7 linked regions of the Homo sapiens genome follow. The protein of the gene in region 2 purifies or fractionates together with the protein of the main gene of each other region. This does not show direct contact. Each region holds a gene or a part of one and is shown on either strand. Other genes may lie near its edges.

The links.
Region 1: the proteins of FAXC (region 2) and NCAPG2 purify together in Homo sapiens (co-immunoprecipitation; 2 studies listed by BioGRID and IntAct, with this or other methods). This does not show direct contact.
Region 3: the proteins of FAXC (region 2) and CHCHD3 purify together in Homo sapiens (co-immunoprecipitation; 2 studies listed by BioGRID and IntAct, with this or other methods). This does not show direct contact.
Region 4: the proteins of FAXC (region 2) and PHLDB3 purify together in Homo sapiens (affinity purification with mass spectrometry; one large-scale study listed by BioGRID and IntAct). This does not show direct contact.
Region 5: the proteins of FAXC (region 2) and CHCHD6 purify together in Homo sapiens (co-immunoprecipitation; 2 studies listed by BioGRID and IntAct, with this or other methods). This does not show direct contact.
Region 6: the proteins of FAXC (region 2) and NCAPH2 purify together in Homo sapiens (co-immunoprecipitation; 2 studies listed by BioGRID and IntAct, with this or other methods). This does not show direct contact.
Region 7: the proteins of FAXC (region 2) and MAU2 purify together in Homo sapiens (affinity purification with mass spectrometry; one large-scale study listed by BioGRID and IntAct). This does not show direct contact.

Annotation. Positions count from the first base shown.
Region 1 is NC_000007.14:158,687,708-158,691,768, reverse strand, and holds part of NCAPG2 (condensin-2 complex subunit G2), read left to right. Parts: intron 1-1,046; coding exon 1,047-1,201; intron 1,202-1,815; coding exon 1,816-1,950; intron 1,951-4,061. UniProt on the Homo sapiens protein: Regulatory subunit of the condensin-2 complex, a complex which establishes mitotic chromosome architecture and is involved in physical rigidity of the chromatid axis.
Region 2 is NC_000006.12:99,270,358-99,273,922, forward strand, and holds the end of FAXC (failed axon connections homolog), read right to left. Parts: 3' UTR 811-3,565; downstream 1-810. UniProt on the Homo sapiens protein: May play a role in axonal development.
Region 3 is NC_000007.14:132,973,779-132,977,839, reverse strand, and holds part of CHCHD3 (MICOS complex subunit MIC19), read left to right. Parts: intron 1-2,553; coding exon 2,554-2,671; intron 2,672-3,815; coding exon of another isoform or gene 3,816-3,863; exon of another isoform or gene 3,864-4,061. UniProt on the Homo sapiens protein: Component of the MICOS complex, a large protein complex of the mitochondrial inner membrane that plays crucial roles in the maintenance of crista junctions, inner membrane architecture, and formation of contact sites to the outer membrane.
Region 4 is NC_000019.10:43,498,133-43,502,193, reverse strand, and holds part of PHLDB3 (pleckstrin homology-like domain family B member 3), read left to right. Parts: coding exon 1-93; intron 94-322; coding exon 323-460; intron 461-4,061.
Region 5 is NC_000003.12:126,720,756-126,724,816, forward strand, and holds part of CHCHD6 (MICOS complex subunit MIC25), read left to right. Parts: intron 1-4,061. UniProt on the Homo sapiens protein: Component of the MICOS complex, a large protein complex of the mitochondrial inner membrane that plays crucial roles in the maintenance of crista junctions, inner membrane architecture, and formation of contact sites to the outer membrane.
Region 6 is NC_000022.11:50,514,356-50,518,416, reverse strand, and holds part of NCAPH2 (condensin-2 complex subunit H2), read right to left. Parts: intron 2,698-4,061; exon of another isoform or gene 2,670-2,697; coding exon of another isoform or gene 2,643-2,669; intron 1,971-2,642; coding exon 1,869-1,970; intron 991-1,868; coding exon 935-990; intron 841-934; coding exon 756-840; intron 677-755; coding exon 608-676; intron 445-607; coding exon 365-444; intron 290-364; exon of another isoform or gene 285-289; coding exon 139-284; intron 1-138. UniProt on the Homo sapiens protein: Regulatory subunit of the condensin-2 complex, a complex that seems to provide chromosomes with an additional level of organization and rigidity and in establishing mitotic chromosome architecture.
Region 7 is NC_000019.10:19,327,063-19,331,123, forward strand, and holds part of MAU2 (MAU2 chromatid cohesion factor homolog), read left to right. Parts: intron 1-4,061. UniProt on the Homo sapiens protein: Plays an important role in the loading of the cohesin complex on to DNA. Forms a heterodimeric complex (also known as cohesin loading complex) with NIPBL/SCC2 which mediates the loading of the cohesin complex onto chromatin.

The sequences.
Region 1 (4,061 bases), on a different chromosome or scaffold from region 2:
TAGGGGAGTTTTACTGTATTGAAATTTAAATGATGGTACTTTTCAAGTTTTAACAAAACTGTAAAACTAGTTATTAATTTAGTCTAAGTTAATGAAAATATTTGATTATGAAATATATAAAATTTTAGTTACAAAAGATGTAAAAATATCTTAATGATTTTTAAGAAAACTTTTCACATACCCTCATCCTTCACTGTGCGAGTGTAATTAGTTTGTTGTGACAAAGTATCTCATCAAGCTTCTTATTCTTAGCATCACTTGGATTTATGTATGTTTTATAGTACATTGTTTTATTCTGAATTCTTGAGTTGAAATACAGTGTCTTATTAAAAAGTCACCCCAATCATAATGAAAATAGCTTCCAAATGCTTTGTGAATTTTACTATCAGTTTATTTGTATGGTCTGCAAATAACTAGTGAAATGATTAGTGCTAACACTGTAGTTGCTATCAACTTCCCAGTTAATTCAGGAATGTTATATTAGTGTAATGACATTCAGATACCTACAGATTATAATTATGAGCATTAGTATCATTAATCTAATTATTGAGCTTTTCTGTTAATAAAAGCACTGCAGTTTTTGTATTCATTATGGTAATTGCTTTGACTGTTTTTCACCTCTGAGCCAAAATTTGAGGCTGGCACATTGAGGGATAGTAGTGGATTATTGATTGGTCAGTAGACCTGTCTTGGCTCTGGTGTTAACAGAGATACCATTGGTGTTGTTACACTGAGGTTTGGTTAGCCTCAGCATCTGCCTTTCTAAAATTGGTGATACGATTTCTCTGAGACTTCCAGTTCCAAAAATCTCTTTTCTATTATGTCTGTTGAGGGTCTTTTTATAACAATCGTCAAACAGTTTTTTAATTAACATTATTTGCATTTTATAACTAATGTATATAAATCTTTGGCAAGTTAAACATAACTAATATTATTTGCTTAGCAAAGCTTTAAATAATATATAAAGTCATGATACTCTAAACTGTTGACTCTGAAGTAATAAGAATTTGCCTTACTAATTGGAAAATTACTGTGCTGTATTTTAGGTATTTTATATGCATTACCTGAGTCTGAACGAAAACTACAGAGTTCTATTCAGGATTTGTGTGTTACCTGGTGGGAGAAAGGCCTGCCTGCCAAGGAAGACACAGGAAAGACAGCCTTTGTCATGTTACTAAGGAGGAGTCTGGAGACTAAGACAGTATGCTCACTTTTTATTTTTTTAAAGACAGGGTCTCTCTCTATTGCCCAGATGGAGTGCAGTGGCATGATCATAGCTCACTGCAGCCTCAAACTCCTGGGCTCGAGCAATCCTCCTGCCTCAGCCTCTCAAGTAGCTGAGACTTCAGGAGTGCACCACCTAGCTAGGACTTTATTTTTAAACGTCTTCCTAACATTCTAAACCTGCGCTATTCAACGTAGTAGCCACTTGCCACAGAAAGCTGTTTAAATTTAAAGTTAAAAATAATGAAAAATTCAGTTCCTCAGTTGCATTAGTCACATTTTAGTAGCTCTACAGTGAAATGTGGCTAATGTCTACTGCACTAGACAGTTCAGATGTATAAAATCTTCATCATCGAGGAAGTTCTTAAACTTGCTGGATTTTTAATTATTTTCCTTATGTTTTAAAAAAATGTTCTGTAGAGCTATAGGGGGCATTTGCAAATTTTAAAATCTGTTTTTATTTGTCGTTATTTTTTAATCTTTGATGAATCAACTAGAATTACCATTATTTATGATATAAAATATACTTGATTTGAAATATGACTTTACTGTTCATTGAAAAAGGTATCACATTTTTTGTGTCATTCCTAGGGTGCAGACGTATGTCGGCTTTGGCGTATCCATCAAGCTTTATATTGCTTTGATTATGATTTGGAGGAAAGTGGAGAAATTAAAGATATGTTACTTGAGTGCTTCATAAATATTAATTATATCAAGAAAGAAGAGGTAAATAGGTATTTGTTTTTTGATCTGTTTGTGAGCTGCTTCTTAATAGATGTTTCTCCTGTGTTCACATGGTTCCTGTCTGCACCATGCTCGGTGTTGCTTAGCTACCAGGAGCTATTTACTGCACATGATTTTTACTGCATGGCAGTACTAGAGAAGACATTTTACAAGTCCTTGCTTATTTCATCATTAAATTGGATGGTAACAGGTGGCTGTGTGTTACCTAGGGGAACCGTAATTACATTTTAAATTAAGAATGATTAAAAATAAGGTTGAGAAAGCACTTCTCTATGAATGAGATCTGGCCTTCTGCCCTAATTCCATTTTAATTGCCATGTACTCAAAACTGTCATCCCATAATATCCTCCCTTTCTTTTTTCTACCCATCCTGTAAATCCAGAGAGGCTTCTGGCCTGTTGCTGCACTGCCCGTCCTGGGGTCAACTCCCATATGAGGCTACTGAGCACCTGAAATGGGACCCAACTGAACTGAGATTAGCCATAAGTATAAAATACACATGGATTTGAAGATTTAGTGGGAAAGAAATGAACATAAAATAGCTCATTAATAATTTTTGTTCTATACTTAATATAATAGACAATATTTTTATTGTCTGTTATATTAAATATTGCTTTACATAAAATATATTATTAAAATTAATCTTCTTTACTTTTGTTAACATGACTACTAAAGAATTGAGAATTACAGAGAGGCTCGCATAGTTCTTCTGTGTTAGGGGCCTTCTGCAGTTGTTTACTGAGCGTCGACTACATGCTCAGGCAGTGCCAGGGGAGACTAGAACAAGCTTTTGCATTTGGATGCTCATGGCTCAGCAGGCACATCTCTGAGGCAGAAGGAGGAAGTCATCCCTCCTCCCTGAAGGAGGTGGAGAAGGGCTTCAGAGGAAGAGGAGGACCAGCTCTGAGGTACAGAATAAGTTTCCTCCAGGTGTCACAGCTGCTCAGCGGCAGAGACAGAACTGGACCCCGGCGAGCCATCTGCAGTCTGCTAGACAAAGGGCCATGTGATTAGGACTGAGACCTTTGGCTCCCAGGGTCTTTGTTCACTTTATAGGTGGTGCCCTTGGTCAGGCCTTTCAGCCTCAGAGTTTTGTTCTGTAAAATAGGAGCAACAGTTACTGTTTCACAGGATTGTTGTTAGGAACAGATGAGGTAATATGTATCAAACCGCAGCCCAGGCGCTGGTGGATAAGAACCCCTGGGGAGGGCTGCCCTTTGCCATCCTTGCTGTGTCAGCACCATCGTTATTACAAAGATGTTGGACACAGCCTGTGCCCCACACATGTCTCCAGGATTGTTCTGAAATGGGAGAGTGAAGAAATTAATGATGGATTCAAACAATAAACTATTTTATGTTGACTTATACATAAGGAGTTGATGAATCGTACTTGTTAACTTATATATGTGTGCAGATATATAACAGACATAAATGTATGTATGTGTTATAACCTCTACCCTTTTTAAAAAATTGATGTCTCCTTTGAATTTAAGATATCTAAATGTAGTTTCCTAATCAATCATTAATTTGGTCAGGTCAGTTTCCAGTCATTCTGGGTAAACCATAAACATCTTGTACTGTACTAACAGATTACTTCCAGTGAATATTACTGTTTTTTTTTTTAACTTGCCTGTTGTGAGCATGGTTACCCTGCATTTGAATCAAAATGTATTGCATTTCTGTAGGATTCCAGTTCTGTGCAGTGGTGTGCTGGTAAGAGATGAAGGTGCTATTCACTGAGAGAGTTCTAGATAGATGCATCTTATGCACTCTATAGAGTATGAAGATTGTATTCATTCTTCTTAGGTTCAGATACATAATCTAGTAGCATGCATATAAATTATCATCACATGATGTATTTATGACTTGAAGACTGTGTATTTGGAAATTCTAGCTTGACAAACACTTAGCCTTTTAACTATATGAGTCCTCAGTTTTCTCATCTATAAATGAGAAGGTGAAATGAACTGGGATATTCAACTCCATTCCCACCCACCTATGCTAGATTTAAAGCTTTCTTTCATTTGAGACTATGGAACCATCCATGACAGAGCCAGAATGAGATGTTTATGGACCCATGGTTACTGTCTGTG
Region 2 (3,565 bases):
CCTCCTCACTCCAAAGGGATGACTTCCGTAGAATCTGGCCCTGCATACTTCCTCCTCACTTACCCCCCTTCCCAAGCTGTGCCACCAGTGAATCAGGACTATTTGACTTTTGACTGACAGTCACACAGGATTTCCACCATCTTCCTTTGAAATCCCAAGCTAAAGTTGGGAGGAGGCCTGTGACAGTGGAGAAGGAGGTAGCCAGGTCCCCATACAATCAATGCCTGGAAACAGGTAGAGTGGGGAAGGGGCCTGGGCCTGCCCCCTCCCACACTCAGCCCCTCCCTCAACCCTCTGCCCTTCCGGAGCTGCCTTTCATGTTTGTTTTCATCCAGATTTACCTGTATATAATGTTGAGCACAGGTTACCCAGTGTGTTTGCCCAGGCCCAACATACCCTGCGGTAGGTGAACGTAACCCTCCAATCCGAACAGTCCCTCCACTGGAGACGACCCCCTAAGTCTTCATAACAAGAACGCTGGCACTAAAATAGACCTCTTAGGCATACGGGGCAGCAACACGCTAATTCCGTAAGGAAGGAAGCTGGTTCTTTTTCCTCTTTTTTTTTTCCTCCAAAATCCACTTTTATCCAAAGGATAAGCTGCTCTGACCTTGACAGTTTTTAAAAGAAAAGTCTGTTGCTAATGGGAACCAGCCCAGCTGTGAAAGATCTAATGAGTGCCTGCCAGTGGCGTCATCTAGAAACAAATCAAGCAGCTTCTGAGAGAGCAGGGAGACCAGCTGTTCCGCCTCTCCTCTAAAAGGAAAGAAGAACAGAAATATGAAACATTGAGTCAAGAAACAGTACAAATGGCAGCAAAACATGTATTTTAACGACTCTGAGATCACAGCACATTGGAAAGGTAAATGACCCTCTTCCCTCTGATGAGTCCTGAAAGCTAGGACAGCAAAGCTTCCCTAACAGGACAGACGGGAAGTCCAGGACCCCACACAAGTTCTAGAAGGGTGTGGAACCAACTGACGTTGAAGTAGATGTAGATCTATTTCAAAGTATTTCTGACTAGGGTCTATGTTAATAAACAGGGCTGATAGGATTTATAGGTCAAGAGAAATGGAGTCTAAAAAGATGAAAACCAAACTACAGGTCGAGCATCCCAAATCCAAAAATCCAAAATCTGAAACGCTCCAAAATCCAAAACTTTTTGAGCACTAACATGACACTCAAAGGAAACGGACATTGGATCATTTCAGATTTCCAGTTTTGATTTTGGGATACTCAACTGGTATAATGCAAATATTTCAAAATCTGAGAAAAACCCAGATCCAAAACACTTCTGGTCCCAAGCACTTCAGATAAGAGATACTCAATCAGTATTATCACTGAAATGGGAAATTAGGGGGTTCTCTCATTTCCTACTTAATAGATATTCCCATGTTGGGAAGGGAGGGTTAGAATTTTGAATGTTACCTGATTGTAATTTGCTCTAAATGGTAAAAAGCTAATATTTGAGTAACAGTATTATTATTTGACCAAAGATTTGGTCAAATTTTAAGATAGAATTTGAAACATCCTGCATGTCTCTATAGATCTTGACATGCCTATAGGCCCAGCTATCCTTTAAGGTTCATTACCATACACATGTGTGAATCACTTCATAGTAAGATTTGAATTTCCAAAATCTTGCTGTGAATCTCTGACCCTAAAGACTTGAGCATATCATGGCCATATTACCATATGCCAGTTTATCATCCCAAACGTCTTTCTTCATCTGTAATTTGGGAACAATAATTACTTTATTGAAGAGGTATGAAAACTAATTGAGACTATATGTGTGTGTGTGTGTGTGTGTGTGTGTGTGTGTGTGTGTGTGTGTTTGAGATGGAGTTTTGCTCTTGTTGCCCAGGCTGGAGTCAATGGCACAAAGTCAGCTCACTGCAGCCTCCACCTCCTGGGTTCAAGCGATTCTCCTGCCTCAGCCTCCCAAGTAGCTGGGATTACAGGCATGCACCACCATGCCCGGCTAATTTTGTATTTTTAGTAGAGACAGGGTTTCTCCATGTTGGTCAGGCTGGTCTCAAACTCCCAACCTCAGGTGATCTGCCCACCTTGGCCTCCCAAAGTCCTGGGATTACAGGCATGAGCCACTGCACCCTGCCTAATTGAGACAATATTTATACAAGGGGAAATTGGTCTATTATAAGGCCTAGCCATAGTAAAGGTCTCAACATGTGCTCCCAGCTCTCCCTCTCCTCCTTGTCTTCTCTCTACCAGTGGTTCTCACACTTCGTAACACTCTGAGGCACACTGGGCATGAAATAAAAGCAGGAGAGGATGGGACAGCATATTCCAGAGATCTGTTTTTCTTCTTAAAAGCCACTCACTTGAAATTCTATCAAAGTTATATGCCTAAAAAATTCATTACCTCTGTTTTAATTATACAAGAGCCTTACAACTAAAATACTCTCCCAGTCATCTAAGAGACCACCACTTAACAGTATATTAGATGCAAACATTTCAGATTTTCCCCATGAGCCTGAAGTTTAAACATTCAAATTTGCAAAAGAGAAGTAAATTGGAAGAAAGACATTCACAGAAAACTATTTCATATCCATTAGTTATCATTTACACATCAAATACATATAGCATTAAGACCAAATATACAGAATTTCCACATTTATATACAGTAGTCAACATAGTGCACAATTCAAATCTATCTTACAATCAAGTGTACAAGTTTAAATATGGCTTTATAAACTACTAATAACTCTGCTAAAGTAACTCATAGATCCAGAAATAAACACTGAAATGCCATCTTCACATTGGGGTCATCATTCAGCAAGATGCTAATCATTGTGATTGCAAAACAGAGGGTGCAGGTAAGTGTTTCCAGGTGGTGTCCGCCCATTAGCCCCGAAATGTGGGTTCAAATTATGCCAACATTGGCCCTTCCTATCTCAGATACCTAAAAATAAGTCTGCACATCTTCCACACATTTGAAGACACAAGATTATAAACAAATAGAAAAAAAGACATGTAATCAGTGAGATGATGAATTATCAGGCATTATCAAAACATGTTTTTCAGATTGATGCTGAAATTCACAGACAATACATCCTGCATTTGCATTATCTGGGTATCACCTCACCCCTACTTTCTTTTCTTGTTTTGCTTACCTCAGTGTGTTGTTAAATCTTTCTGGAATTTTCAAGGCATTCTAGATCAAGTGGTCCCAAAAGCAGAATTAAAAACATCAGTCTTAAAGGTGACATCAAATTGTTCATCCTTCTCTTTCCCAACCAAAAATGCCTATTTTAAGTAAAAATAATTAAATACCTTGACCTAAAATCATGCGTCCATGCCTGTTTTATATCTGCTTTGCCACAAATGGTATATACACATTCTCTAATCAATTACAGGCATCTGGGTGCTACGCCTAAAGACTCCTTGTCCCATTCTCTAAACTCCATTGAGGACCAGAAAATATACTTTTAAAATGTCTATGTTTGCTATGGTTTTTAATGTTTACATCAGTAAAACAGTATATACATATATAGCAGTGTATACATATATACATATATATCATAAATAAATACATGGAGGGGCA
Region 3 (4,061 bases), on a different chromosome or scaffold from region 2:
GTAGAACTCCATATGTAATTAAAATCTAAGCCATACATAAGTAAACTAAAATGGAAAAAAAAAGTAGTAATTTTTAAACAGTACTTTAAAATTAGATACACCAAATGTGGTAGATGTGATAATTCAGTTGAACAGAATTCATTTTATGTTCATGAACTAATAATAGAATTTGAATAAACATTTTATATATGTTTGTAAAGTGCCTAGCACAGTGCTTAGTAGTTGATCCATAAATGATAGTAATTTTATTATTTTATTTTAGTTTCCACCTCACTGGTAAAAATAGGTAATGCTTTTTTACTTAGGGGTAAGATGTCCATACAAATGCGTTAAATACAGTATTGTAATCTGATATGATAACCTCAGCAGTTATTTGCACAATATTCTCATGGGGAGCACTTCATTTTTGATGTTACTTTCATTTACCTCCAGGATTTATTTGAGTACAAGTGTATTTTGGTAATTAAGGGCTGTAGTCTTAAACTTTAGCATGCATCAGAATTCTAGAGGGCTTATGAAAAGACAGTTTGCTAGGCACTATCCCTAGAGTTTCTGATTCAGCAAGTGTGGGATGGAATCAGAGAAGCTGCATTTCTAACAGACTCCCAGCTGATGCTACTGCAGCTGGTTTGTGGACTGTAGTTTTAGAACTGCTGTTCTAGGAAGTGGTGTGACTTCTAATTATTGCTGTTCTCTTACAATTACACATATCCAGTGGTGTTAATGTGTTGATATCATTGATGTTGCTGAATTTATTGTATGGTCCTTGTGAAATAATTTAGAGAAATTTGGTTTGTATGAGTGTCATTGTGCTTATTGCTTAGGAAGTTTCCCAAAGGTTACTTTTGCATTAGAGAATTTCGAAATACAGATTTTAACTTGTTTCTAGTCCTCTTTTTTTTTATTTAAGACACAAAACTACACAGCTTTGATTTTTAGGGGAAAAGGATGATAACTTTGGAATATATCTCACAAGGTGACTTTTTTTTTTCTGTTGTAGTTGATTTCTGAGAATTCCAGAGTATCAGGATGATGTAGCAATTTAAAAATAGTAACACAAAATTTTATCTCTAGTTTTTTTCAAAAATCTTTTTAAAACTAAAATTTGATAAGCTAGTACTGAGTAGAATTTGGTGCTCATCATTCACACGTATAAAGTAGATTTCACTCAGAATTTCACTTACACCAACATAACAATTTTACTTTTCCTTTTTAAAGCATAGCTATACCTTCAGGGATATGATGGTATAGTAGGGTTATTCTCTCAAAGAAGAAAAGGCAGTCAGAAAATCTTTGTTCATGAGATTAGACTGAAATCTTCAGTGATTCAGTGATTACTGAATGCCTCTATGTGCCAGGCACTATGGCAAAAATCAGTGCCAAAGTAATTTATCTTTATCATGTACAATGAGGGGTTTTAGTGGGTTGTAACTTAATATGATCTAATTGTGTGATGAGGCTACTGAGAAATCTAATGCAATCTTATGCTTCATTAATAGAATTAGTATTGTGTACAGATCTAGGGAAGTAAGATTCTCCTGTCTTAGTTTGCTAGAGCATGTCTGGAGGGTTAGGTTTAGTTTGGAGCTAACAGATCGATTGGAGTCATTCCAGAAGTGAGGAGCCCTGCAGTTGAAAGGCGTGGTCATATTTGCATATGAGGATTGTTGGAAAATAGGGGTAATATACTGGGAGGAAAGATGTCCTTATTAGTTCCATAATGTCTGGCTTCTCTGCTGTGCTGTAACATCCACAATGACAGTGACCTGTCCATCTTGTTTATCGCTGTGTCCTCAATGCCTAGCACAGTGCCTGGTGTGCATTCAGTAAATGGACGAGTTGAGTAAGTTTGGAGAAAGAGACGATGGTTACCTTCAAATATTTGTCATGTAGATGGCTTTTTTTTTTTTTTTTAAACGGAGTCTCATTCGCCCAGGCTAGAATGCAGTGGCATGATCTCAGCTCACTGCGTCCTCTACCTCCCAGGCTCAAGCAGTTCTCCTGCCTCAGCCTCCCAGGTAGCTGGGATTACAGGAATGTATCACCACGCCCAGCGAAGTTTTGTATTTTTAGTAGAGACGGGGTTTCACCATGTTGGCCAGGCTGGTCTTGAACTCCTGACCTCAAGTGGTCCACTTGCCTTGGTCTCCCAAAGTGCTGGGATTACAGGTGTGAGCTGCCACCACGCCTGGCCTAGATGGTTTGTTAATTACTTAAATTTTCAGAGGCCAAATGGAAGCACCAGGGATGGAATTTTTTTGGTGGGCAGATTTTAATTTTACATAAGAAGAACTTTGTAAAACTTAGTTATATTTGGCAGCCAAATTAATAAGCTTCTTCATGTATTTGAATTTGGTTATTTGAAATGCTTGAGTGGAGGCTGCATGGGGATTTACCTCTATACCTGCTTTTTTGATAGATTATGGGCCAAGATGATTTCAGCTGTTGACCTTTTTGGCTATGTGTTTCTATTTTTAAATTATTTCATTTGATAGAAAATAATGTCAACTAATAAAATATTTTTTCTAACTTAGACAATTCTTGTCATTTTAGACTAAAGCAAGCCAAAGAGCTGGACCGAGAGAGGGCTGCTGCCAATGAGCAGTTAACCAGAGCCATCCTTCGGGAGAGGATATGTAGCGAGGAGGAACGCGCTAAGGCAAAGCACCTGGTGAGTATTAAAAATGTAGGAGAAATTTTCTTGCCTACAAGGAAATCTCTGATGTTTGGGAAGAGCTAAGTACTCTGTGCCAGCTTTTAGTGTTGATAATATTATTCATGTTCTCTTTGCTCAGATTTTGATTTTTGCCTTTTATAAGTAGCTTACAGTTTAGGTTTAACCATCAAGGACTTTAAAGGCAGGTAACTCTGGAAGTATTGAAGACCAACATGCAGACATGTGTACATGTTTCACACCTGAAGGATTGTTGTCTGCTTTTTTTTCTTTTTCTTTCCTTTTTTTTTTTGAGACGGAGTCTTGCTCTGTCGCCTAGGCTAGAGTGCAGTGGTGCGATCTCAGCTCACTGCAACCTCCGCCTCCGGGGTTCAAGTGATTCTCCAGCCTCAGCCTCCCGAGTAGCTGAGATTATAGGCACCTGCCATCGTGCCCAGCTAATTTTTGTATTTATAGTAGAGACGGGGTTTCACTATCTTGGCCAGGCTGGTCTTGAACTCCTGACCATGTGATCCACCCGCCTCGGCTTCCCAAACTGCTGGGATTACAGGTGTGAGCCACCGAGCCCGGCCTGTCTTCTTTTTTTGTCCTTTGCCTTTGGTTTTATTGTCTTTGAAACCTCAGGGGTCAGCAATGTAGGCTTCTTTCTCTCGTGGCTGGCAACTACCAGATGTTAGTCTGGAAGACTCTGGCAAAGGTGAGTAAGGTTTGATCAATCACTGCCTGGGGTTTAGGGAAGAGAAAATGTAGAGCCAGGGCCTTGGGGAACAGTCTTTTCTAAGATAATTTTTTTAAAAAGAAAATATTTTTTAATCTTTTAAAAGATTACATAGACATGTTTTTGTTGTTGTCTTTAAAAGTATTACTAACAGACAGAAGAAGGTTTAAAAGACACCCATCAATCTGTCTTTCTGATATAACCATGGTTTACACCAGTGTGTGTTTTCCTCGAGATTATTTTTTTCTAGGCTTTTTAACATATTGAAACATTTAGATAATGCTATAGATGGTGTTAAGCCTCATGAACATTTTCCTATGTCACTGAACATTTTTCTGAAATGTAGTTTTTAATGGCTGAATAATGTTCTGCCTTTTGTATTCAACATAATTTATTAAGCAATTTCTTATTGTTATTTGATAGATAAAAGTGGAGCTGCTCTGGGTGAAACCTGGAGTGTTGACTGCTTAGCCTCCACTTCGGCCTTCCTAGAAACCCAGATGTTACTCCTCGGAACCTTTAGTCCTCATTGGAGCACAGTTGGGAACTCACTGGACAGGGAAAATGGGACCATGGAATGGAGAACTTTGAACTGAAGAGTGAGGGGGATTTTCCTAGTTCACTAGGCAATTGGGAAACACTAAAACTTTCTAAGAAGAAGGCTCATTT
Region 4 (4,061 bases), on a different chromosome or scaffold from region 2:
CAAGGACAGCAGCTGGAGGCATTGACTCGTGTGGCCCTGATGGAGCAGCGAGTGAAGGAGCTACAGCGCCAGAGGAAGGAGCTGAGGATCGAGGTGAGGCTGCGGACCCCTTGGGAAGCCTGGCCCCAACTCAAGCGGAACCCGCAAAGCCGGACTCCCAGCTTTTTCCTCGGGTGGGATCAGATTTTAGGCCCTCCGCTCTTCCTCCCTCCAAATTCAGGTCCCTGGAGTCCATCCTCCCTTCGAATCCGGTAGTTCAGGCCCTGGGCCTCTTCCTTGGACCTAGGCGTCCGAGCCCCCAGCCCTGGCATTCTCTCCGCAGATGGAGGTGGAGGTGGCCTTGCTGCGGGGTGAGCTGGCTGGGGAGCGAGTGGCCGCTCGCCGGGAGGAGGAGCAGCTGCGGGAGCTGCTGGAGCAGCAGGCGGCCTCGGAGCAGCGCGGCCGCCAGCAGCGGGAACAGGTCTGTTTGGCTCACCGGGTCTTCATCAGCAGTGTCCTTCCTGGTCCATGGATGTTGGTGTGCTCCTAGCCACCTGCGCCCCGGGGTTGTCCCCATTCCCCAAAGGAAGACATTTGGGCTCCTGAGAGAGTGAGGGGCAGATGCCCCTCCTGGTTTTCCTTCTCCCTCCCTGGGCGAGATTTTTGGGGCTCTTCCTTTGTCCCCTGTCCGTTTGCTATTTAAATGTGGGTGTGTAAAAACTTCCAAACTGGCCGGAAGCAGTGGCTCACGCCTGTAATCATAGCACTTTGGGAGGCCGAGGCGGGCGGATTGCCTGAGCTCAGGAGTTTGAGACCAGCCTGGGCAACATGGCGAAACCCCGTCTCTGCTTAAAAATACAAAAATTAGCAGGGCGTGGTGGCGGGCGCCTGTAGTCCCAGCTACTTGGGAGGCTGAGGCAGGAGAATCGCTTGAATCCGGGAGATGGAGGTTGCAGTGAGCCAAGATCGCACCATTGCACTCCAGCAGCCTGCGTGACAAGAAGGAGACTCCGTCTCAAAAAAAAAAAAAAAAAAAAAAGAGAAAAAGAAAACTTCCAAACCCACCCCACAATAGTCAGGCAGCTCCCATGTCCTGTGCCCACCAGCTTCATCAATGATTAATATTCTTACATTCTTGTTTCATTATCTCCAATTTGTTCTCGTCCCCAGTTTTAAAAGCCAATCCCAGACATCATATGGTCTGTACATATGTTTAGAGTGTATCATTGACAGATAAGAAATCCTTTTAGGCTGGGCCAAGTGGCTCACACCTGTAATCCCAGTACTTGCGGGGTGGGGGGGGGGTACGGGGGGCGGGGCAAAGTGGGAGGATCGCTTGAGGCCAAGACTATGAGACCAGCCTGGCAATATTATAATAAGACACCGTTTCTGTGAAAAATAAAAATACAAAAATTAACCAGGCATGGTGGCATGTGCCTGTGGCCTCAGACTCAGAAGAGTGAGGTGGGAGGATCAATTGAGCCCAGAAGGTAGAGGCTGCAGTGAGCTGTGATTATAACATTGCACTCCAACCTGGGCGATAGAGCAAGACCCTGTCTCAAAAATAAAAAATTAATAAGTTCTTAGTATTGTCTTATTTCTGGTTAGTTTTTGTGTTTCCCAGACAGTCTCAAAATGCCAGTTAACAGGTGGCTTGTTTGAATGAAGTCCCCAAAGTTCAGTGTGATTGGCTGATACGTCTTGCCCATTGTTTTATCTCTGGTGGTTCCTACCCGCTGTGTCTTCCCCATACTGTTTATTGGAAAAATCCAGTCTTCTGTCCTATAGGCAGAGCATGGCTGATCGCATGCCTGTGGTGCCCTTGAACATGCCTCTGTTTCTGCAAGTGGGTGTTGGTTAGAGGGAGAGGTTTGATCGTATTCAGAAGTGCTTTAGTGCTTCCTGAGCCAGTGTTGGGAACCTCATCTCTGGTTGTCCCGACCTAATAAGATCACCCTAGTCTCTTTTTTTTTGCGAGACACAGTTTCGCTCTTGTTGCCCAGGCTGGAGTGCAATGGCGTGATCTTGGCTCACCGTAACCTCTGCCTCCCAGGTTCAAGCGATTCTCCTGTCTTAGCCTCCCCAGTAGCTGGGATTACAGGCATGCACCACCATGCCCGGGTAATTTTGTATTTTCAGTAGAGATGGGGTTTCTCCATGCTGGTCAGGCTGGTCTCGAACTCCTGACCTCAGGTGATCTGCCCGCCTTGGCCTCCCAAAGTGCTGGGATTACAGGTATGAGCCACCGCAGTTCGAGGCCAGCCTGGCCAACATGATGAAACCCCATCTCTACTAAAAATACAAAAAATTAGCTGGGCGTGGTGGCAGGCACCAGTAATCCCAGCTATTCGGGAGGCTGAGGCAGGAGAATTGCTTGAATCCGGGAGGTGGAGGTTGCAGCTCCCAGGAGCCAAGATCACACCACTGCACTCCAGCCTGGGCAACGGGAGCAGAACTCCATCTCAAAAAAAAGAATCTTTTATCTGAAGATTGTAACATCCATCAGTGGTCATTGCTTGGGTCAGTTACCATTATAGGTTGGAAAATGGTGACTTGTGATTTTGTCAGTTTTTTTCTTTGCAAGTGTCGTGTATGTTGGAATTTTATGAGGCTGGGTCCTAGGCCCTCATTTATCCTCAAAGATCACATATTTCTCCCAGGCCCTCTCTCCTGAGACAGAAATGTGCTCTTCTTCCTAGGGTACTGGCTACTTCATACTCCCTTCTCACCCAGATCCAGAAATCTCGGTCGCAGCCCCTTCTCCCTCTGTCCCAGGAGTCCAGACCCCCAGCTCCTCCTCCCTCAAACCCAGAAGTCCAGACCCCCAGATCCTCCTTCCTTAGATCCAGGAATCCAGGCCCCAGCCCCTCCTCCCTCTGACCCAGGAGTCTGGCTGACCTCAGCAACTCCCTTCTCCACACTGTTTGTCTTGCTGTCCCTTTGGTCACCAGGCCAGAGTCCTGGACTTTGCCCTGTACACTTCCCTGTCTCTCACCTCCAAGCCCGTCAACCACCATGTCCTATCCTTTCTGCTTCCTGATCCTCTCTGTCTAGTCCATCTATTTTTCAGCCCCACCGCCCAGGCCCCAGCTTAGGTCTCACCCTCATTGCTTGGAGGACTCCCGAGGCAGCTGCTCTCCACCCCTGTAACCCATCTCCCAGAGGGATGATTCCTAGCTCCTACCCCATCCTTTCAGTCCTTCTGAGGCTCCCCATATCCCCAGGTTGACCAAACCCCCCGTGAGCTGGACGAGCTGGCCTTCCCACTGTCCTCTCCCACCACGTTCTTCCCACCACCACATCCTCTTCCACCCTGGCTGGAGTTTGTCCCCCAGACTTCTTGTACTTTTCAACTTTCATGCATTTGTGCCAAGCCGCTTCCTCTGCCCAAAATGCTCTTCTAGCTCCTTTTATTTTCCCAGATCCAAATGCTCCCTGATTGTTTTGTTTTGTTTTGATTTTGAGACAGGGTCTCACTGTCGCCCAGGCTGGAGTGCAGTAGTGCAATCACTGCAGCCTCAACCTCTGGCTGACATTGTTCTTCATTCTGGGTTCCCACAGTCTCTGGATTTTACTGCCCTGATCTTTCCAACTGGCTGTGTTCCCACTTGGAGGACAGGGCCCAGACACAATCCACTTCTGCATCCACCGTATCACATAACATGAATATGTTTTGCATTCATTAATTTTCTTTCTTCTTTCCTTCCTTCCATCATTCCTTCCTTCCTTCCTTTTTGTTTCTCTTTCTCCTCCTTTCCTTTTCTTTCTTTTTCTTTCTCTTCCCTCCCTCCCTCTTTTCTTTCTCTCTCTCCTTCCTTCGTTCCTTCCCTCTTTCTCTCTTTCTTTCTTTTCTGTCTTTTCTCCTTTCCTTCCCTTTCGAGACAGTGTCTCCCTCTGTCACCCAGACTGGAACAGTGATGCAAACACAGCTCAGTGCAGCCTCAATCTCCCTGGCTCAAGCAATCCTCCCACCTCAGCCTCCCGAGTAGCTGGAACTACAGGCGTGCACTAACACACTCCACTAATTTTTTTGTTTTTTTGTAGAGATGGGCTCCCCCTATGTTGCCCAGGCTAGTCTCAAA
Region 5 (4,061 bases), on a different chromosome or scaffold from region 2:
CACGTTGCTCCTGCTGTCACTTCGCACCCAGCCTGGTGTCCTGTTTCCACCCTCAGCATGTGGCTAAGTGCTTACTGGGGACTTGGGGCTTTAGATGTTTCTCCTCATTCTCCCATACACTGACTCACTCAGGGTCTTAGTTGCTACAGCCGCAAAAAAGGAGCAAATGGGCAAACTTGGGAAGGTTTCTCCCTTTTACAATGTGGGATTTTTGTATTTACCTACAATCAAACGGATCTGCTGCCTTCTTAGAATAATTTTCTTAATTTCCTCCCTTTCTTTGTCATTCTCACGCAAATTATTCCACGAACTTGAGATCAAAACTCCTTTTCTTCAACTCTGTGCTCTCGTTCATTCCCTGCAGTCAGGGCAGCCACCAGACGAGCCTTTCATCCCACCTCCCACGCAGGCCGTGGTGATGTTTCCTTGCTCACAAACTTTCAGCGTCTCCTCGGGATGGTTGGACCTCTCCCTTTGCCTGACTTCCAAGCTTCCTTCTGTGCTGGCTTCATCCAAGTCCTTCCACCCCACGCCTTCCAAAGTGAACCTATGGCGGCAGGCGCACGGTCTCTTCCTGTCTGTGCCTCTTCCCCGGTGCCCTGCCCTAGGCTATGAAGCTTCTGCCTTCTGCAGACATCGCTGCCGTCCCGCCCATGGGATGGAGCTTCTCCTGTGTCTAAGTCTGCGCCTGCCTTAGGGAACCCATCCCTCTCTTGGCTGCTTCCGGCCACTGGAATCCCTCCTTGTGCTGTTCTCATTGACTTCCTGTCTGGGCTGCTTCTCTTTGTTTTTGGTGTTCTCTCCCTTTTTATTTGTAACAGCTTTATTGAGATGTGATTCACATGCTGTACAATACATCCATTTAAGGCATGTGATTTAATAGTTTTTAGTGTATTCACAGGTATGTGTGACCATTGCCACAATCATTTTTAGAACATTTTCATCACCCCCACCCCCCACCCTCCCCACCAAATCCTACTTACCCTGTAGCTATCAGTCCCCACCCCGGTCCCTGCATTTCCCCAAGCCCAAGGCAGTCACGAATCTACTTTTGTGTCTAGAGATTTGCCTGTTGTGGAATACGCCACACAGTGTGGCCTTTTGGGTCTGACTCCTTTCACTTAGCGTAGTGCTTTCAAGGTTTCTCCATGTTATAATGTGTCAGTAGTTCATTCCCTTTTATGGCTGAATAATACTCCATTGTATAGATATACTTCATTTTACTTATCCATTCATTGGTTGATGAACATTTGGGTCCTTTCCATTTTTTGGCTATTACAGATAATGCTGATGTGAACACATGTTTTCATTTGTCTTTGGTGTACAATGAGAAGTGGAATTGCCATATCAAGTGGTAACTCTCCATATCCTCGCAAATACTTATTATAATTTGACTTTAAAAATTTATTTATTTATTTAGAAACAGAGCCTCACCTGTTGTCCAGGCTGGAGTGCAGTGGCACAGTCATAGCTCGCTGTAACCATGACTTCCTGGGCTCAAGCAATCCTTTTGCCTCAGCCTCCCAAGAAGCTAGGACTGTAGGCATGTGGCACCACACCTGGCTAATTAAAAAAAAATTTTTGTTTTTTAGAGAAAGGGCCTCACTGTGTTGCCCAGGCTGGTCTCAAACTCCTGGTCTCAAGTGATCCTTTTGCCTCGGCCCTCCAAAATGCTAAGATTACAGATGCGAGCCACTATGGCTGACCCTTACACGTTGACCTTTTAATTATAGCCATCCTCGTGGGTGTGATGTGGTACCTTATTGTGGTTTAAACCCGTGTTTCTCTAGAGACTAATGATGTTGAGCATCTTTTCCTGTGCTTATTGACCATTTGTATATCTTCTTTGGAAAAATTTCTATTTAGATCCTTTGCCCATTTTTAAGTAGGATTATTTTTCATTTTATTATTCAATTCTGGAAGGTGTTTATATGTTTTAGATAAAAGTTCCTTATCAGGTATATGATTTGTACATATTTTCTCCCATTCTGTGGGTTGTCTTTTCAGTTGCCCTATGGTGTCATTTGGTACTCAAAACTTTAAAATTTTGAAAAAGTCCAATTATTTATTTATTTCTTTCATTGCTCATGCTTTTGGTGTCATCTCTAAGAACGTATTGCCAAAGCCAAGGTCATAATGATTTAGCCCTCTGTTTTCTAATAAGAGTTTTATAGTTTTAGCTCTTAATGTTTAGGTCTCGGATCTGTTTTGTATTAATTCTTGTATATGGTGTAAGGTAGGTGTGCAACTATATTATTTTGCAAGGGATATCCAGTTGTCCCAGCATCATTGGTTGAAGAGACCGCTCTTTCCCCACTGAACCATCTTGGCACCCTTGTTGAAATCAACTGACCATAGAGATAAAGGTTTCTTTATGGCCTCCTTATTCCCTTCCATTGATATGTTTGGTCTTCTCTTGTCATATGTCATTAACTAGTTATTTGATTGTATATATCTTAAATACTACAGGGACTCTATTATTATTATTATTATTACAATCTTTTGTTACTAAGGAAATGTTCATGGTAAAAAAATTAAGATGCAAAAGTTCCAAAAGTGAAAATCCTGCCCCAGCTGCTCCTGTCCCCACTTTCAGGACCTCATCCTCTGAGTACTTTGCTAAGCAGTTTTGTAGATTTCTCCTTGGAGCAGATCTGTATATGTGTCTTATGTGCATGCATGTGAAATCCAAATGCAGTTCACACTTGCGGATATGTGTATATGCATATATTCAAATTCAGCAACATTTATATTTGTATGTCTGCATTTTTTTTTGCAAAATTGAGATGTGCAAAAAATTCTATGACTTTTTAAACAATCAGCAGTATATCTCATGTGTTTTCCGTGACAGTGTATGTGTATTCTACCTTGTTCTTTCTTAATGGTTCCATAAAATTCTATAGGATGTATATGCCGAAATTTTCTCAGTCAGTTCTCTATCTGTTGGATGTTTATGTGATTTCCTTTTCTTTTTTCCCTATTTCCTCCGGTGTCACAGTGAGTGTCCTTCCACATGCCTCTGTGTACATGGGGGAGTAGTTTTCTCAGTGAGATATTCTGGAAGTGGAGTTGCTGATCATGTCTTTTGTCTTACAGTAATTTTTAATGTCTTTCCCTCCGCTGTGTTTTATGATGCCTTGCACATATTAGGCACTTAATAAATATTTACTAAAGTGAACTCTTAAGGATTTTTATCCTGGATTGATCCCCAGCTTGCTGTTTCATCTCAGTAAACTGTTTTATGACACCCTTAGGCCTATTTCACATCCTCTAAATGAATGAGAGTTTTGGTTATCCAGTCTTCATTAGGGGAACTGAGGTGAAATTAGTCAAGCAGTATTTGATTATCTACTGTATGTGTGGCACTGGAGGTGTACAGAGATGAGTGAGATTCAGGCTTAGCCCTCAAGGTATTTAAAAACCATCAGGATAGGCAGGCAGGAGGTGTAGTACTTCTCTGAGAAGCACATGTGTGTTGTCAGGGGGCTCAGAGGAAGGGAAAAGGTGATACTGGCACACCTGGGAGATGGTGCAGACGTGGCTCCAGATACCACAGTACAGTGGACATCAAAATAAAGCAAATCATGAACTTTTTGGTTTCCTAGTGTATATAAGAGTTGTGTTTACACTATATTGTAGTCTCAAGTGTACACTAACATTATGCCTAAAAAGTGTATATACCTTAATTAGAAATACTTTATTGGCAAAATATGCTAATGATCATCTGAGCCTTTAGTGAGTCATAATCTTTTTGCTGGTGGGGGGTCTTGCCTCCTTGTTGATGGCTGCTGACTGATCAGGATGGTGGTTGGCTGTGGCAGTTTTGTAAAATAAGACAACAATGAAGTTTGCCACATCGATCAACTCTTCCTTTCACAAAAGATTTCTCTGTAGCATACGATGCTGTTTGATAGCATTTAACCCATAGTGGAGCTCCTTTCAAGATCGGAGTCAGTTCTCTAAAACCCTGCTGCTACTCTATCAACTAAGTTTATGATCCTATTCTAAATCCTTTGTTGTCATTTCAGCAGTGTTCACAGCATCTTCACCAGGAGCAGATT
Region 6 (4,061 bases), on a different chromosome or scaffold from region 2:
ACCTGTCTAGACTAGAGCAGGCACCCAGAGACAGGGAGCTCCCAAGACCAGAGGTGGCAAGCACAGGGCACCCCACAAGAGTCCAACCAGAAGACCCTCCCTTCCTTCCCACCAAGCCCCCCGCATCCAAGCCCTCACCCTTCTGGGTCCCTGGCATGGGGGAAACGCCCGCTGGTTCCATGGGGGACATGCCCTCTGGCTCCAACATGAAGGCCCCTCTGGGGTGGGGAACGCACGTGTTCATCCTGAAATCCTTCCGGCTGGCCAGGACCTCACCCTGACGGCTGTGCTGGCAAAAACACGCCTGCTGTAGAGACCCTTCCCAGGCAGGCCTCCCTCCCCGTCGCTGGGCTCAGATCCCTACCTGTACAGGGGATTGTTGTTCTTCTCCATTTCATCAGGGGCCACCAGGGCCATGGGCAGGAGGGGGATGATGAGGACCTCCTGCATGGAGGCCAAGGGTGGGTGAGCCAGGCACCCTTCCACTCCAGTGGAGAACAGGACCCACATGGGGCAATGACACCTTCCCACACCCCATCAGCTCAACACAGCCCCAGGGAAAGTGCTGACCTCACCCCAGCCTAAGAGGGGCCAGGCCAGGACTCACACTGGGCGTCTGATCATTCTTGAGATCCACGTTAGTCCGGGAGTCAGGGAAGTCATCCAGCGACAGGAACTGGAGGGAGACAGAGCTCGTGGGGGCGGAGCCCAGGCAAACACACAGTGGGCGGGGACCACATGCCAAAGAAACTCACCTCATTCTCTGCCTCCTGGGGGACCCCGGAGCTGGCAACCCCATTGGCCCTGTCCTCCTGCACCGAAGAGAGCTGCTTGGCCCGCCTGAGAGAGAAGCACATCCCGTGGGCATCCCAGGAGCTGCAGGGGCCTCCCTGGCCACATGCAGGGCAGCACAGTGAGTGGCTGCAGAACTCACCTCTTTCCAGAGATGAAATCAAGGGCCTGGTAGACGAGTGAGTAGAGGTATTCCACCTGGTGACCAGATGCAGGCAGTGAGGACCCAGAAAGGAGGGGCCCACCCCCAAGGCCTTCCCAGCTATCCATCGGTGCCCCCACGAGGCCTGGCCACCACCACCAAACCTCCAGTACAAGAAACCACCAATTTTGGTTCCAAAAATAATTCTCAAATCAAACCAGGAATCTCATGAGAATTACTTTACCAGCTGAGGCCACCCACATCTCTCCTCTGCCCTCTATGGTCCACGCAGCCGCGAGCGTGGCCTTCTCAACGTGTGACCCTGACAGCACTGTGGTTCCCACAGTGTGCCTCATCACACGGTCCTTGGTGGTGAGGCCCCTCGTGCTTGGCACCCACTCTGCCGACGGCCTGCAGCCCTGCTGCTCCTCCGCCCGTGTGCTCCCGCCAGCATCACCCCAGCCCCTCCTCCTGTCCTGGCCCTGCCCTGTCCCAGCTCCTGCCGCCACGGGGCCTGCAGGACAGAGCCCGTCACTCACTTCCTGTCCTTCTCCTCCACAGAACAGAGGCCCCACCGTGAGGGTGGTGGTTGTGGACTTTCTAGGTGCTGACAATGAGGCACCCACAAGTAGGGGACGGGGAAGGGGAAGGTGGGTGCAGGTGGCACCCTGGGCTGTGTCCAAGTGCACACAGCAGGTGTCATTCCCCCAAGACAACAGAGCCCAACAGCACAAAAGACCCTCCCTGCCTGGCTGTGCGATTTTAAATTAAAAATTGTTCTTGGTGTTGGAAGGTGCTGAGGAATTGGCTGAGACCTGAGGAGAGAGGGAGGTAGGTCACAGACGGGACGACCACTGCACCTGCCCCAGAAGGAGAGCCGACTGTGGTCCCACTGGCCACCAAAATGCCAAGACCAGCGTCAAGCAGGGCCCACCTTCTTACTGTAGACGCAGGCAGAGCCCTGGATCAACAACGCTGCCTCAATGAAGTTCATTGTGGTCTTGCCTTCGTCAAAAGAAATGCAGATCTGATCCAGCTGCAAGAAACAACACAAAGACAGGGGGAATCCAAGGCCCAGTCTGCACTCGCTTCTTCCAGGGCAGCCCCACCCATCTTTGGTCTCTGCCCAGCACCTCCCGAGACGGGCAGCTCTAGCTATGCTGTGGGCTCACCGGTTGTCCCTGGTATTTCGGGGCAGAGACAGGTCTCTGTGTTTCCCCCTACTTCCTATAACAAAAACCTGTTTTGGAAGTGGAAGGCCCCCAGGGCACACTGTCTACAAACAACCAGGGCAGCACAGCGGCTCCCTCCACAAGGCGCCAGAGGCTGACAGACTCCAGCAGGAAGATCCCCGACACAGAGAAGAAAAGGGAACCTCAGGGGTAGGAAAGGCAGAGATAAAATGCTGAGGTCTCCATCCTCTGAGCAGAGAACTCAGGAAACAGTTACAGGTGAGTCGCCATCCTTCCTCTGCTCCCCTCAGCCTCCCGGAGCCCCAGCTCCTCTGTCACCCCTTAAACGTCAGTGCGCCAGGCGCTCCACCCCCCGCCATGCACATTCCTTCATCCCATGCCCAAGCTGCCAACCATAAGCCAATGAGCCCCAAACCCAACCCGACCAGCTCTCTCTCCTTAGCTCTGGGGCTGCATTCATAGCTGTCCACAGAGTACATTCAAATGTCCCCAAACACTTTACTTCCATACTTTACCCAACATCTTCCCCAACGCTGGCTCATCTCCTGTATTCCTTCTCAGCAAATGACACTTTAAAAAAAAAAAAAAAAAAAAGGCCGGGTGCGGTGGCTCACACCTGTAATCCCAGCACTTTGGGAGGCCGAGGCGGGCAGATCATGAGGTCAGGAGATCGAGACCATCCTGGCTAACACGGTGAAACCTCGTCTCTACTAAAAATACAAAAAATTAGCTGGGCGTGGTGGCGGGCGCCTGTAGTCCCAGCTACTCGGGAGGCTGAGGCAGGAGAATGGCATGAACCTGGGAGGCGGAGCTTGCAGTGAGCCGAGATCGCGCCACTGCACTCCAGCCTGGGCGACAGAGCGAGACTCCGTCTCAAAAAAAAAATGTTTTTGTAGAGACAGGGTTTCTCTATGTTGCCCAGGTTGGTCTCAAACTCCTGGCCTCCAGTGATCCTCCTGCCTCAGCCTCCCAAAGCACTGGGATCACAGGCATGCACCACCGTGCCCAGCCACAAACGACACTTTGAAGCCCCTAGGTGTCTTTCCAGCTCTTCAATTTTGCATTTCCATCTGCCTGGAACACCGACCCCCAGCTGTCCCCACGCAAACTCTTTTTCAGAGCCCCTCCATTCCTGGGGCCTCTGTGCCGCTCCCTTAGTGTGATCGTGTCCCTTAGTGAACTGTGTGAGCAGCATTAGTGTAATTCCAGCCTTCTGTTCAGTGCCTGACACTGGTGTCCAGTAAATATTTGATGAACACATGCATAGATAATGTCAAAGCTAAGCCTGAAAAACGCAGAGGCTCACCAGACAGATGAAGGGAACGTGAAGGCAGCTAGCAGAGACTGGACACGTCTCTTCAGGAAAATGAGCATGATCTAAACATGGCCAAAGCATGGCGCGTGCTGGGGAGAGGCAAGATTTTAGGCACCATGGTAGCACGAAGGAGTGGCAGAGGCTGGGAAGCCATCCCCAAGGGGAGTCACTTCCATTAGCTCTTGAAGGATAAAGGGTGTTTGTCAGATCTGGGAGGAAGGGAGAGGAAACAGCAGCATGGTCGTCTACGGAGTGTAAGGACCTCGGGGGTGTTCAGGACCTGAAGAGCTGGTCCAGAAAGAAGGGAACATGGAGGAGATGGCGGCCTGGAAGCTGAGCTGCAGAAGTGGCCCTTCTCTCCAGTGACCCTCAGCCTGGCTGGCTTGCCCACTCCCAAGACACTACTGGGCTTCACTTGTCTTCTCACCTCCCCAGGTTGGACCTGCCATCTGAGCCCAAACCCACATGTTCAGCTGCCTTCTTCAAACATCGCTTGGATGGCTTCACCAAGATTCATACTGAATGCATCCACACTGAACTCCAAATAGCCCCCAACCCACCTGCCCAGAAACCCAGGGGTTCCTCTCCACAGTCACCCCCATTCTGGCCCCACCACCTC
Region 7 (4,061 bases), on a different chromosome or scaffold from region 2:
GGCCTCTCAAAGTGCTGGGATTACAGGTGTGAGCCACCACACACAGCCTCCCCAGGAGCTTTTTTTTTTTTTTTTTTTAGATGGACTCTCACTCTGTTGCCCAGGCTGGAGTGCAGTGGCGCAATCTCAGCTCATTAAAACCTCTGCCTCTCAGGTTCAGACTATTCTCCTGCCTCAGCCTCCCAAGCAGCTGGGATTACAGGTGCCTGCCACCATGCCAGGCTAATTTTTTCTACTTGTATTTATTTATTTATTTATTTATTTATTTATTTATTTATTTTGAGACAGAGTCTCGCTCTGTCGCCCAGGCTGGAGTGCAATGGCGCGATCTCGGCTCACTGCAAGCTCCGCCTCCTGGGTTCATGCCATTCTCCTGCCTCAGCCTCCTGAGTAGCTGGAACTACAGGCGCCTGCCACCACGCCCGGCTAATTTTTTATATTTTTAGTAGAGACGGGGTTTCACCGTGTTAGCCAGGATGGTCTTGATCTCCTGACCTCATGATCCACCCGCCTCGACCTGCCAAAGTGCTGGGATTACAGGCGTGAGCCACTGCGCCCGGCCTCTACTTTTATTAGAGATGGGGTTTCACTATGTTGGCCACACTGGTCTCGAACTCCTCAGCAGCTTTTTTGGGGTCACAGTAGTTGGTGTCTCGGTGACTCTTGCCTCTGTAGGGCCTCAGAACACCTGCCGGCCGCCTTGTTCCCTGGGTCTGCTCAGCAGATTCTGGAGCTGTTACAGTGCATGGCAGGACACTTTACCTGAAAGCCTTCCTTCTCTGAGTATGGTTTTGGCAGTGATGTGGGTGTGTTTTGGCTGCTCTGGGACTCCCCTAAGTAAATAGTTGATGACTATAAGCATTGTCACTTTACTTAGACATTTCTTGGCTAGAGAATTCGCAGTGACCAACCTGGGCACTACCCTGTCTCTACAAAAAATTTGAAAATTAGCGGGCCCGTGGTGGCTCACATCTGTAGTCCTAGCTACTTGGGAAGCTGAGGCGTGAGGATCACTTGAGCCCAGGAGGTCGAGGCATCAGTGAGCCGTGTTCCTGCCACTGCAGTCCAATCTGGGTGACAGAGAGAGACCCTGTCTCAAAAAAAAAAAAAAAAAAATTTTGCAATGCCATTTCTGCAGATTCTGACAGGTTGTGTTCTTCTATATTTTGCTTTCCTCTTGTTCTCTCTCTTCTTGCTGTACACCCATCCCTGTAAGTTTTCATTCTTCTCCTCTCTTCCAGGCCCTATGGCTTTTTTCTTATTTTCCCACCTGTCTTTTAAGCAGACAGATCCATCTTGGTCATTTGGACATCTGCTGTTGAATCAAGAGAATGTACCTGCATATCCGTTTCCCCCTTAACTTTTTTTTTTTTTTTTGAGACAGAGTCTCACTCTGTTGCCCAGGTTGGAGTGCAGTGGCGTGATCTCGGCTCCCTGCAAGCTCCGTCTCCCGGGTTCATGCCATTCTCCTGCCTCAGCCTCCCAAGTAGCTGGGACTGCAGGCGCCCACCACCATGCCCGGCTAATTTTTTGTAATTTTAGTAGAGACGGGGTTTCACCATGTTAGCCAGGATGGTTTCGATCTCCTGACCTCGTAATCCGCCCGCCTCAGCCTCCCAAAGTGCTGGGATTACAGGCGTGAGCCACCGCGCCCAGCCACCCCTTTAACTTTCTTACTTCTGATCACAGTCCCTTTTATCCCTTGGCCTGGGAAGTGCACCATCATTCTTAGGTTTTCCTGGTTTGAAAGCCACCCAGGACTAAATGCCGCCTCTCTGGAAGAACTTACTATTTTCTATAATCCAGGCAGTCATTCTTTGAACAGTGGTGTTTTCTGACTGCGTATGCCATGCTTGCTTTCTCTGTGTCAATGCCATGCGTGCTTTCTCTGTGGTTGGAACAGGGCTGCTTTTTAATGGTGGTTTTGCTCATCTGACTTAGAAAGCAGCTCCAGACTGTGCTGGTCAGATACTTAATTCTGCATCCAGGTTTAGCCTGAGCATCTATGGTTCACTTTCTCAGCAAGTGATTAAATGCTTCCTTTTCTCTTAAGACCCAACAGGGCTAGGTTCTGAGCCTCTCCTCATCAGGCCCAGCGTAAGCAGTTCTTTCATTCTTCAGGATCACAACTGTGTCCTGCTAAATTCCGTGTCCCATCTGCAGGGAGCAGAGACTTGTGCAGAGCTGGCCGTTACGCAGTTTCATGAAGTGATCTGTGCTTCCTCCTGTTTTTGTTTCTATTTCCTTCCCTCTCACTCTTGAGTCACCTCTGACTTCAGGATGTGAAATCTGTTTAGGAACCATCACCTCACGGTTCTACCAGCTGGTCCCTTCCTCTCCCACCCCGGTTCTTCTACTTCCTGATTGCCAGTTACTATAGCATCATTGGCACCTACTACATGCCAGGCCCTGCATTGGTGCTTCACAGAGCAAGGTCTCCCTGGATCCTCAACAAATTAACAGGGTAAGGCCCACCTCAGACTCACCTGTGATGACACCCAGCCACTGCAGGAGAATGTGCTTAGCCACAGTCACACAGCAGCAAGAGGCCAGGGAAGCTGCTAAATGCTGTGCTTCCATCCCAGAGGTGTTGCAAGCAATAGGGTAGTTTAAAAAAAAAATGATTTTGAGCCAGGCATGGTGGCTCATGCCTGTTATCCTAGCACTTTGGGAGGCTAAGGCGGGAGGAGTTTGAGACCAGCCTGGGCAACATAGCCAGACCCTGTCTCTTAAAAAAAAAAAAAAATTGAAAAATTAGCCACACATGCCTATAGTCCCAGCTACTTGGGAGGCTGAAGTAGGAGGAGTGCTTGAGCCTGAGAATTCAAGGTTACAGTGAGCCATGATTGCACCACTGCATTCCGGCCTGGGTGACAAAAACCCTGTCTTTTTAATTATTTATTTATTTATTTATTTATTTATTTTTTATTTTTTTGAGATAAAGTCTCACTCTGTCACCCAGGCTGGAGTGCAGTGGCGCAATCTTAGCTCCCTGCCACTTCTGCCTCCTGGGCTCATGTGGTTCTTTTGCCTCAGCTTCCAGAGTAGCTGATGTGACAGGCACACACCACCATGCCCAGCTAATTTTTGTATATTTTGTAGAGATGGGGTTTTGCCATGTTGCCCAGGTTGGTCTCAAACTCCTGAGCTCAAGCAGTCCACCTGTCTTGGCCTCCCAAAGTGCCAGGATTACAGGCGTGAGCCATTGCTCCCAGCCAACCCTGTCTCTTATAAAAACAAAACAACAACAGGCCAGGCATGGTGGCTCACGCCTGTAATCCCGGCACTTTGGGAGGCTGAGGTGGTAGTATCTCCTGAGCCCAGGAGTTTGAGACCAGCCTGGGCAAGATAGCGAGACCCCCATCTCTACAAAAAAGTAAAACAATTAGTTGGGCCTGCCAGGCGCCATGGCTCACGCCTGTAATCCCAGCACTTTGGGAGGCCAAGGCGGGTGCATCACCTGAGGTCAGGAGTTCGAGACCTGCCTGACCAACATAGAGAAACCCCGTCTCTACTGAAAATACAAAATTAGCCAGGCGTGATGGCGCATGCCTGTAATCCCAGCTACTCGGGAGGCTGAGGCAGGAGAATCGCTTGAACCCGGGAGCCGGAGGGTGCCATGAGCCAAGATCACACCATTGCACTCCAGCCTGGGCAGCAAGAGCGAAAATTCATCTCAAAAAACAAAATTAGTAGGACCTGGTGAGATGCACCTGTAGTCCCAGCTACTTGGGAGACCGAGCCAGGAGGATCTCTTGAGCCCAGGAGTTTGAGGTTACAGTGAGGACCACTGCACTCCCCCTGGGTGGCAGAGGGATACCATGTCTAAAAACTACAATCAAAAAAAGCCTTTTTTTTAAAAGTTACTTTGGTTTTAAGGAATAAGAAGCCTTGAAACACTCAGCCCTGGACTGAATCCTCCAGGCACCAGAGCTGTGCTGGTCTGGACCCTTCCACCCCACTTGAAACCTGTTGGCCCTGTTGCAACCCTCTCTTGCTTTCCCTGAGAACCCTAAGGTGACCCCAGGGGCTGCTGATGGAGACAGTCACCTCCTTGCCCT